2 linked regions of the Homo sapiens genome follow. The protein of the gene in region 1 purifies or fractionates together with the protein of each later gene. This does not show direct contact. Each region holds a gene or a part of one and is shown on either strand. Other genes may lie near its edges. The genes, in order: MYH8 and SOD2.

Region 1 (3,823 bases):
TTTGTAATAATTTACTCCTTTATTTTATAGATGGTGAACTGATGCCCTGGAGGTAAAATAGTTTATGTAAGACAAATCTGGAAGAGGAGAGACAGACTATCATCTGTCTCTAGGCTTCTACCTTTGGGCCTTTTCTTCTCTATGAAGAAGCCTTGTGTATGGATCAAATGCTGTAGATCTGGGTTGCTGTCCTGGATTTGTCTTATGCACCTGTGGGATCTTTAGCTAGTGTTTTGATTTCCCTGCATCTTAGTTTCTTCTATATAAGTTGGGGGAATATTAGCTACTCCTTGGGTTGTTTTGAAGATTAAATATGGTAACGTTTTGAAGTCCCTAGTGTACACTGCTGGCCCAGTGAGCGTTAGCTATTATTAGTAGTACATTATGTTACCTCCTATTTTGGAGATAACCTTTGTTCTAGGTGCAGTGTTGGAGCAAGTAATATGGACGCTATAAATGTGGATGAATAATGATAATACCTAATATATCAAAGCCCACAATTGCCTCCTTCTTAATTCTTGTTAATATAACTCACATCAAAGATTTCAAAGCCAGCAATGTCCAAGACCCCGATGAAGTACTGCCTGGGCTGCTTGGTGTCCAGCTGCTGGTTGATGCGGGTGACCATCCACAGGAACATCTTCTCGTAGACGGCTTTGGCCAGAGCACCCACCGCATTGTACACCTTCACAGATAGAGTAATGTTTGTTGGTATTGTTAAAGACATGCCATGAAGGCCTGAGATGTGTGTGATTCATTGAGGTCATGCACTTACCTGCTGCACAGTCTGGCCTTTGGTGACATACTCATTGCCAACCTTGACCCTAGGGTAGCAGAGGGCTTTGAGTAGGTCTGCAGAGTTCAGACTCTGGAGATAGGCTGCCTTGTCAGCGACTGCAGAGACACAGTTCAGGACATGTTGTTTCATGAAGGATATCCTCTTTTACCTAATCTTTCCATTTTTCTCCAATTCAATCTATTATTTAAATAAAAAGCTTAAATAATTCTATAAAAGGCCAAATGAGGTTTTCTAACCTTAGAGCATGTGGTTGCCAGTAAATGGTTGATTGGTTATACTGATCTTTAGTGATTTATTTCAAGTAGTTTTTAAGAAATTTTTCATCAACTGTAAACATATGTAGTATTTATTGCCGTCTTGCAGTTTTTTGTAAGTAAAAGCCATAGTCCCTGTTTTTAAGACACATTAGGTGTAGTTGGAAGGATAAGATAAATATTCACTGTTAGAGAGGGTAAAAGTCAGAATATTTTGATTCTTATCTTAGTTTTTCACCTCCCTATTAAACCTTGCTGGATTAATTTCTTTATCTACAAATGTGGAGATTAAAATTTACTGCATGATCCCTACAGAATCCCTTTCTAAAATTCTGTCGGTGACTATAACGTAAATAAATGCCACATGTCAGGTACACCAGTAACTGCTGAAACATTTAGAGGAGGAAGAAAGAATGTCAATTCGAGGTGGTCAGGAAAGGCTTTAAGGAGCGATAACTGTCTTTCTGGGGTAGATCCTGTATATTGCGTGCTCTTTCCATACGTAGAATATATGATCTTTTTTCTCAATTCCTTTTTTTAACTCTTACTTGCTGCCTATATTGTCTATGGATTTATATACAGACAATACACACTTGCTTACAGATGACTCTAGGGGTATCTTTCTCCCCAGCCCTGTATTTGGGCAGATTCTCTGCTGTCAGTTCCTAGGGTCTTCCTATCTAGTGCTGAAATAGAGCAGTCTACAGTTATCTACATATACCCACCTTCGTTGCCAAGGCCAACCAGGAGCACTATTATATCTCATTCTATCTCATAGTTTGTGCTTATAAGTGGCTATTGGGGTTTGTTTGTGACTTATTTGGGCTGGATGGAAATGATGGAGACATGGAGATGTAAGGAAGAGAGGGGGTGAGGAAAGCATGCAGTGTGTGTAAATGTGTATATGCCCTTCACAAGTCGCAAGTCCAGCCACAAAGGAGATGTGAGTGTAAAATAGGATTTTTTTTTTTGCTACATTCTCTCATTAAACCCAGATAAAGTTTCATTTGGTACCTTCTGTGCCATCTGGCTCAGCTTGCTCCTCACGCTGCTTTTGCTTGAATTTCATGTTCCCATAATGCATCACAGCCCCTGTGAGTTTATAGATGGACACTTTCTCTTCAGGAGTGAAGCCCAGGATGTCAATGGCACTCTACCAGGAAAAATGAGAGGACAAAAGTTAGGGCTGAAGAGACTAACTTATAAGAGAATTTATACATATCCTAAGGTAACCACACCTACAGTAGTTTGCTATTGTCATTTCCATACATAATGGATTTTTAAAATTAGTGTTTTTGACTTACATCAGTGGCCATCAACTCTTCTTGGTCATCAATACTGGGAACTGTGATCTCCCCCTGACTGACGAAGGCATAGTCATATGGGTTGGTGGTGATCAGGAGCATTTCTGGGTCACAGAATTCAGGGCATACATTTTACATTAGACATTGTTAATAAAAATATTAACTTCTATCTATGACTTTAAGTTCTTTCTTACCAATTAGATCTGGCTTCTTATTGGAAGTGATCTGATAAAAAATATGGTAGCTTCTTTCCGCCTTTAGCTGGAAAGTAACTCTGGACTTTTCTAAAAGATCTGGAGAGGGAAATAGATATCGAGTTTGAAAAAAGTATCAATGCTTCTGAGATAGTAAATGAACCTCACGTCTTTGGTCAAATTTGGAGCATTACATTTGGCTCCAATGAGATTTCAACTTGATGACCAATTGCAGATAGACAGTGATTCTCACTGTCTAAGGGCAGCAACTGAAGCATACCTGCTCTAGGACAAATATATTTTTCACATGAAGGATCCATGACCTCTGTATTTTAGTTGATCCCTAATATCCCCTCCTTCTTTGGATCACCTAGGATTCACTCTGGGTGGTGAGGGCCTACCTTGGAAACATCTACCAAAACTCAGATCAGGAGCAAACCACAGAGATGTATTGGAAACCCATAAGTAGCCCAGTTTTTGTCCTGGAAAAAAATCATAGTTGCTTCTGAGGCAGGAATTTCTCTAGGATGTGTTACAGAATCATCAAGTCTGAGATTGAGATAAAGGGAGCACTCAGTGGATTATGGGTAAGCCTAGCATTAGCTTACAGGCAGTACTGGCAGCAGACTACCCTTTTAACAGGCTTCATGCACAGCAAGGGTGGCAAAATATCCCTGCAAATGAAATCACTTGTCTCTCTGTTTTGATTTTCAATGGTCCTGTTACTCACATGTTTCTATATCAGCAGATGCCAGCTTCCCTGTAGTACCAAAGTGGATTCTAATGAATTTACCCTTGAAAAGAATATTTAGTATTAGAAAACTGAAACACAAAGAGAGATGCAAATGAAATAATAATTCAGACGTGGCTACTCTGGAAGTTAGGGGTTGAGACCAAGAGACTCACAAAGCGAGAGGAGTTGTCATTCCTCACAGTTTTGGCATTGCCAAAGGCCTCCAGTAGGGGATTGGCGCTGATGATTTGATCTTCCAGAGTCCCCTGCAAAGGAAGGAGCAGTTCTCACATCTGGGACTCCAGATGTCTGAGAGCCTTGACAGAGGTTTTGACTCTGGCTATCAGACCTACCTGCATTTTGCCAGATTCATCCTTCTTCTTCTCTCCAGTAACTGCAATTGTTGCAAAGTATTGGATGACACGCTTGGTGTTCACAGTCTTTCCGGCACCAGATTCTCCGCTGTCAAACAGAAATCAGAGAAGAGATCAGAGAACTATGGCCTGCATTGTCAACATCTAAGACAATCCTTGCAAATC
Region 2 (3,823 bases), on another chromosome or scaffold:
AGTAATGGGATGGCTGGGTCAAATGGTATTTCTAGTTCTAGATCCCTGAGGAATCGCCACACTGTCTTCCACAATGGTTGAACTAGTTTACAGTCCCACCACCAGTGTAAAAGTGTTCCTATTTCTCCACATCCTCTCCAGCACCTGTTGTTTCCTGACTTTTTAATGATTGACATTCTAACTGGTGTGAGATGGTATCTCATTGTGGTTTTGATTTGCATTTCTCTGATGGCCCATGATGATGAGCATTTTTTTCATGTGTCTGTTGGATGCATGGATGTCTTCTTTTGAGAAGTGTCTCTTCATATCCTTCACCTACTTTTTGATGGGGTTTGTTTTTTTCTTGTAAGTTTGTTTGAGTTCCTTGTAGATTCTGGATATTAGCCCTTTGTCAGATGAGTAGATTGCAAAAATTTTCTCCCATTTTGTAGGTTGCCTGTTCACTCTGATGGTAGTTTCTTTTGCTGTGCAGAAGCTCTTGAGTTTAATGAGATCCCATTTGTCAATTTTGGCTTCTGTTGCCATTGCTTTTGGTGTTTTAGACATGAAGTCCTTGCCCATGCCTGTGTCCTGAATGGTACTGCATAGGTTTTCTTCTAGGGTTTTTATGGTTTTAGGTCTAACATTTAAGTCTTTAATCCATCTTGAATTAATTTTTGTATAAGGTGTAAGGAAGGGATCCAGTTTCAGCTTTCTACATGTGGCTAGCCAGTTTTCCCAGCACCATTTATTAAATAGGGAATCCTTTCCCCATTTCTTGTTTTTGTCAGGTTTCTCAAAGATCAGATAGTTGTAGATGTGTGGTATTATTTCTGAGGGCTCTGTTCTGTTCCATTGGTCTATATCTCTGTTTTGGTACTAGTACCATGCTGTTTTGGTTACTGCAGCCTTGTAGTATAGTTTGAAATCAGGTAGCGTGATGCCTCCAGCTTTGTTCTTTTGGCTTAGGATCGTTTTGGCAGTGCAGGCTCTTTTTTGGTTCCACATGAACTTTAAAGTAGTTTTTTCCAATTCTATGAAGAAAGTCATGGGTAGCTTGATGGGGATGGCATTGAATCTATAAATTACCTTGGGCAGTATAGCCATTTTCACGATATTGATTCTTCCTATCCATGAGCATGGAATGTTCTTCCATTTGTTTGTGTCCTCTTTTATTTCCTTGAGCAGTGGTTTGTAGTTCTCCTTGAAGAGGTCCTTCACATCCCTTGTAAGTTGGATTCCTAGGTATTTTATTCTCTTTGAGGCAGTTGTGAATGGGAGTTCACTCATGATTTGGCTCTCTGTTTGTCTGTTGTTGGTGTATAAGAATGCTTGTGATTTTTGCACATTGATTTTGTATCCTGAGATTTTGCTGAAGTTGCTTATCAAATTAAGGAGATTTTGGGCTGAGATGATGGGGTTTTCTAAATATAAAATCATGTCATCTGCAAACAGGGACAATTTGACTTCCTCTTTTCCTTATTGAATACCCTTTATTTCTTTCTCCTGCCTGATGGCCCTGGCCAGAACTTCCAACACTATGTTGAATAGGAGTGGTGAGAGAGGGCATCCCTGTCTTGTGCCAGTTTTCAAAGGGAATGCTTCCAGTTTTTGCCCATTCAGTCTGATATTGGCTGTGGGTTTGTCATAGATAGCTCTTATTATTTTGAGATATGTCCCATCAATACCTAATTCATTGAGAGTTTTTAGCATGAAGGGCTGTTGAATTTTGTCCAAGGCCTTTTCTGCATCTGTTGAGATAATCATGTGGTTTTTGTCTTTGGTTCTGTTTATATGCTGGATTACTTTTATTGATTTGTGTATGTTGAACCAGCCTTGCATCCCAGGGATGAAGCCCACTTGATCATGGTGGATAAGCTTTTTGATATGCTGCTGGATTCAGTTTGCCAGTATTTTATTGAGGATTTTTGCATTGATTTTCATCAGGGATATTGGTCTAAAGTTCTCTTTTTTTGTTATGTCTCTGCCAGGCTTTGGTATCAGGATGATGCTGGCTTCATAAAATGAGTTAGGGAGGATTCCCTCTTTTTCTATTGATTGGAATAGTTTCAGAAGGAATGGTACCAGCTCTTCCTTGTACCTCTGGTAGAATTCGGCTGTGAATCCATCTTGTCCTGGACTTTTTTTGGTTGGTAGGCTATTAATTATTGCCTCAATTTCAGAGCCTGTTATTGGTCTATTCAGGGATTAAACTTCTTCCTGGTTTAGTTTTGAGAGGGTGTATGTGTCCAGGAATTTATCTATTTCTTCTAGATTTTCTAGTTTATTTGCATAGAGGTGTTTATAGTATTCTCTGTGTACTCTGTATTTCTGTGGGATTGGTGGTGATATCCACTTTATCATTTTTTATTGCATTTATTTGATTCTTCTCTCTTTTCTTGTTTATTAGTCTTGCTAGCGGTCTATCAATTGTGTTTATCTTTTCAAAAAACCAGCTCCTGGATTCATTCATTTTTTGAAGGTTTTTTTGTGTCTCTGTCTCCTTCAGTTCTGCTCTGATCTTAGTTATTTCTTGTCTTCTGCTAGCTGTTGAATGTGTTTGCTCTTGCTTCTCTAATATTTTTAATTGTGATGTTAGAGTGTCAATTTTAGATCTTTCCTGCTTTCTCTTGTGGGCACTTAGTGCTGTAAATTTCCCTCTACACACTGCTTTAAATGTGTCCCAGAGATTCTGGTATGTTGTGTCTTTGTTCTCGTTGGTTTCAAAGAACATCTTTATTTCTGCCTTCATTTTGTTATGTACCCAGTAGTCATTCAGGAGCAGGTTGTTCAGTTTCCATGTAGCTGAGTGGTTTTGAGTGAGTTTCTTAATCCTGAGTTCTAGTTTGATTGCACTGTGGTCTGAGACAGTATGTTATAATTTCTGTTCTTTTACATTTGCTGAGGAGTGCTTTACTTCCAACTATGTGGTCAATTTTGGAATAGGTGCGATGTGGTGCTGAGAAGAATGTATATTCTGTTGATTTGGGGTGGAGAGTTCTGTAGATGTCTATTAGGTCTGCTTGGTGCAGAGCTGAATTCAATTCCTGGATATCCTTGTTAACTTTCTGTCTCGTTGATCTGTCTAATATTGACAGTGGGGTGTTAGAGTCTCCCATTGTTATTGTGTGGGAGTCTAAATCTCTTTGTAGGTCTCTAAGGACTTGGTTTATGAATCTGGGTGCTCCTGTATTGGGTGCATATATATTTAAGATAGTTAGCTCTTCTTGTTGAATTGATCCCTTTACTATCATGTAATGGCCTTCTTTGTCTCTTTTGATCTTTGTTGGTTTAAAGTCTGTTTTATCAGAGACTAGGATTGCAACCCCGGCCTTTTTTTTTGTTTTCCGTTTGCTTGGTAGATCTTCCTCCATCCTTTTATTTTGAGCCTATGTGTGTGTGTCTCTGTACGTGAGATGGGTTTCCTGAATACAGCACCCTGATGGGTCTTGACTCTTTATCCAGTGTGCCAGTCTGTGTCTTTTAATTGGAGCATTTAGCCCATTTACATTTAAGGTTAATATTGTTATGTGTGAATTTGATCCTGTCACTAGGATGTTCACTGGTTATTTTGCTCGTTAGTTGATGCAGTTTCTTCCTAGCCTCAATGGTCTTTACAATTTGGCATGTTTTTGCAGTGGCTGATACTGGTTGTTCCATTCCATGTTTAGTGCTTCCTTCAGGAGCTCTTGTAAGGCAGGCCTGGTGGTGACAAAATCTCTCAGCATTTGCTTGTTTGTAAAGGATTTTATTTCTCCTTCACTTATGAAGCTTAGTTTGGCTGGATATGAAATTCTGGGTTGAAAATTCTTTTCTTCAAGAACGTTGAATATTGACCCCCACT

Evidence for each region.
Region 2: the proteins of MYH8 (region 1) and SOD2 purify together in Homo sapiens (co-immunoprecipitation; one large-scale study listed by IntAct). This does not show direct contact.

The regions. Positions count from the first base shown.
Region 1 is NC_000017.11:10,411,835-10,415,657, forward strand, and holds part of MYH8 (myosin-8), read right to left. Parts: intron 3,747-3,823; coding exon 3,638-3,746; intron 3,551-3,637; coding exon 3,458-3,550; intron 3,346-3,457; coding exon 3,282-3,345; intron 2,651-3,281; coding exon 2,552-2,650; intron 2,462-2,551; coding exon 2,358-2,461; intron 2,207-2,357; coding exon 2,068-2,206; intron 895-2,067; coding exon 776-894; intron 686-775; coding exon 536-685; intron 1-535. UniProt on the Homo sapiens protein: Muscle contraction.
Region 2 is NC_000006.12:159,672,422-159,676,244, reverse strand, and holds part of SOD2 (superoxide dismutase [Mn], mitochondrial isoform A precursor), read left to right. Parts: 3' UTR 1-3,823. UniProt on the Homo sapiens protein: Destroys superoxide anion radicals which are normally produced within the cells and which are toxic to biological systems.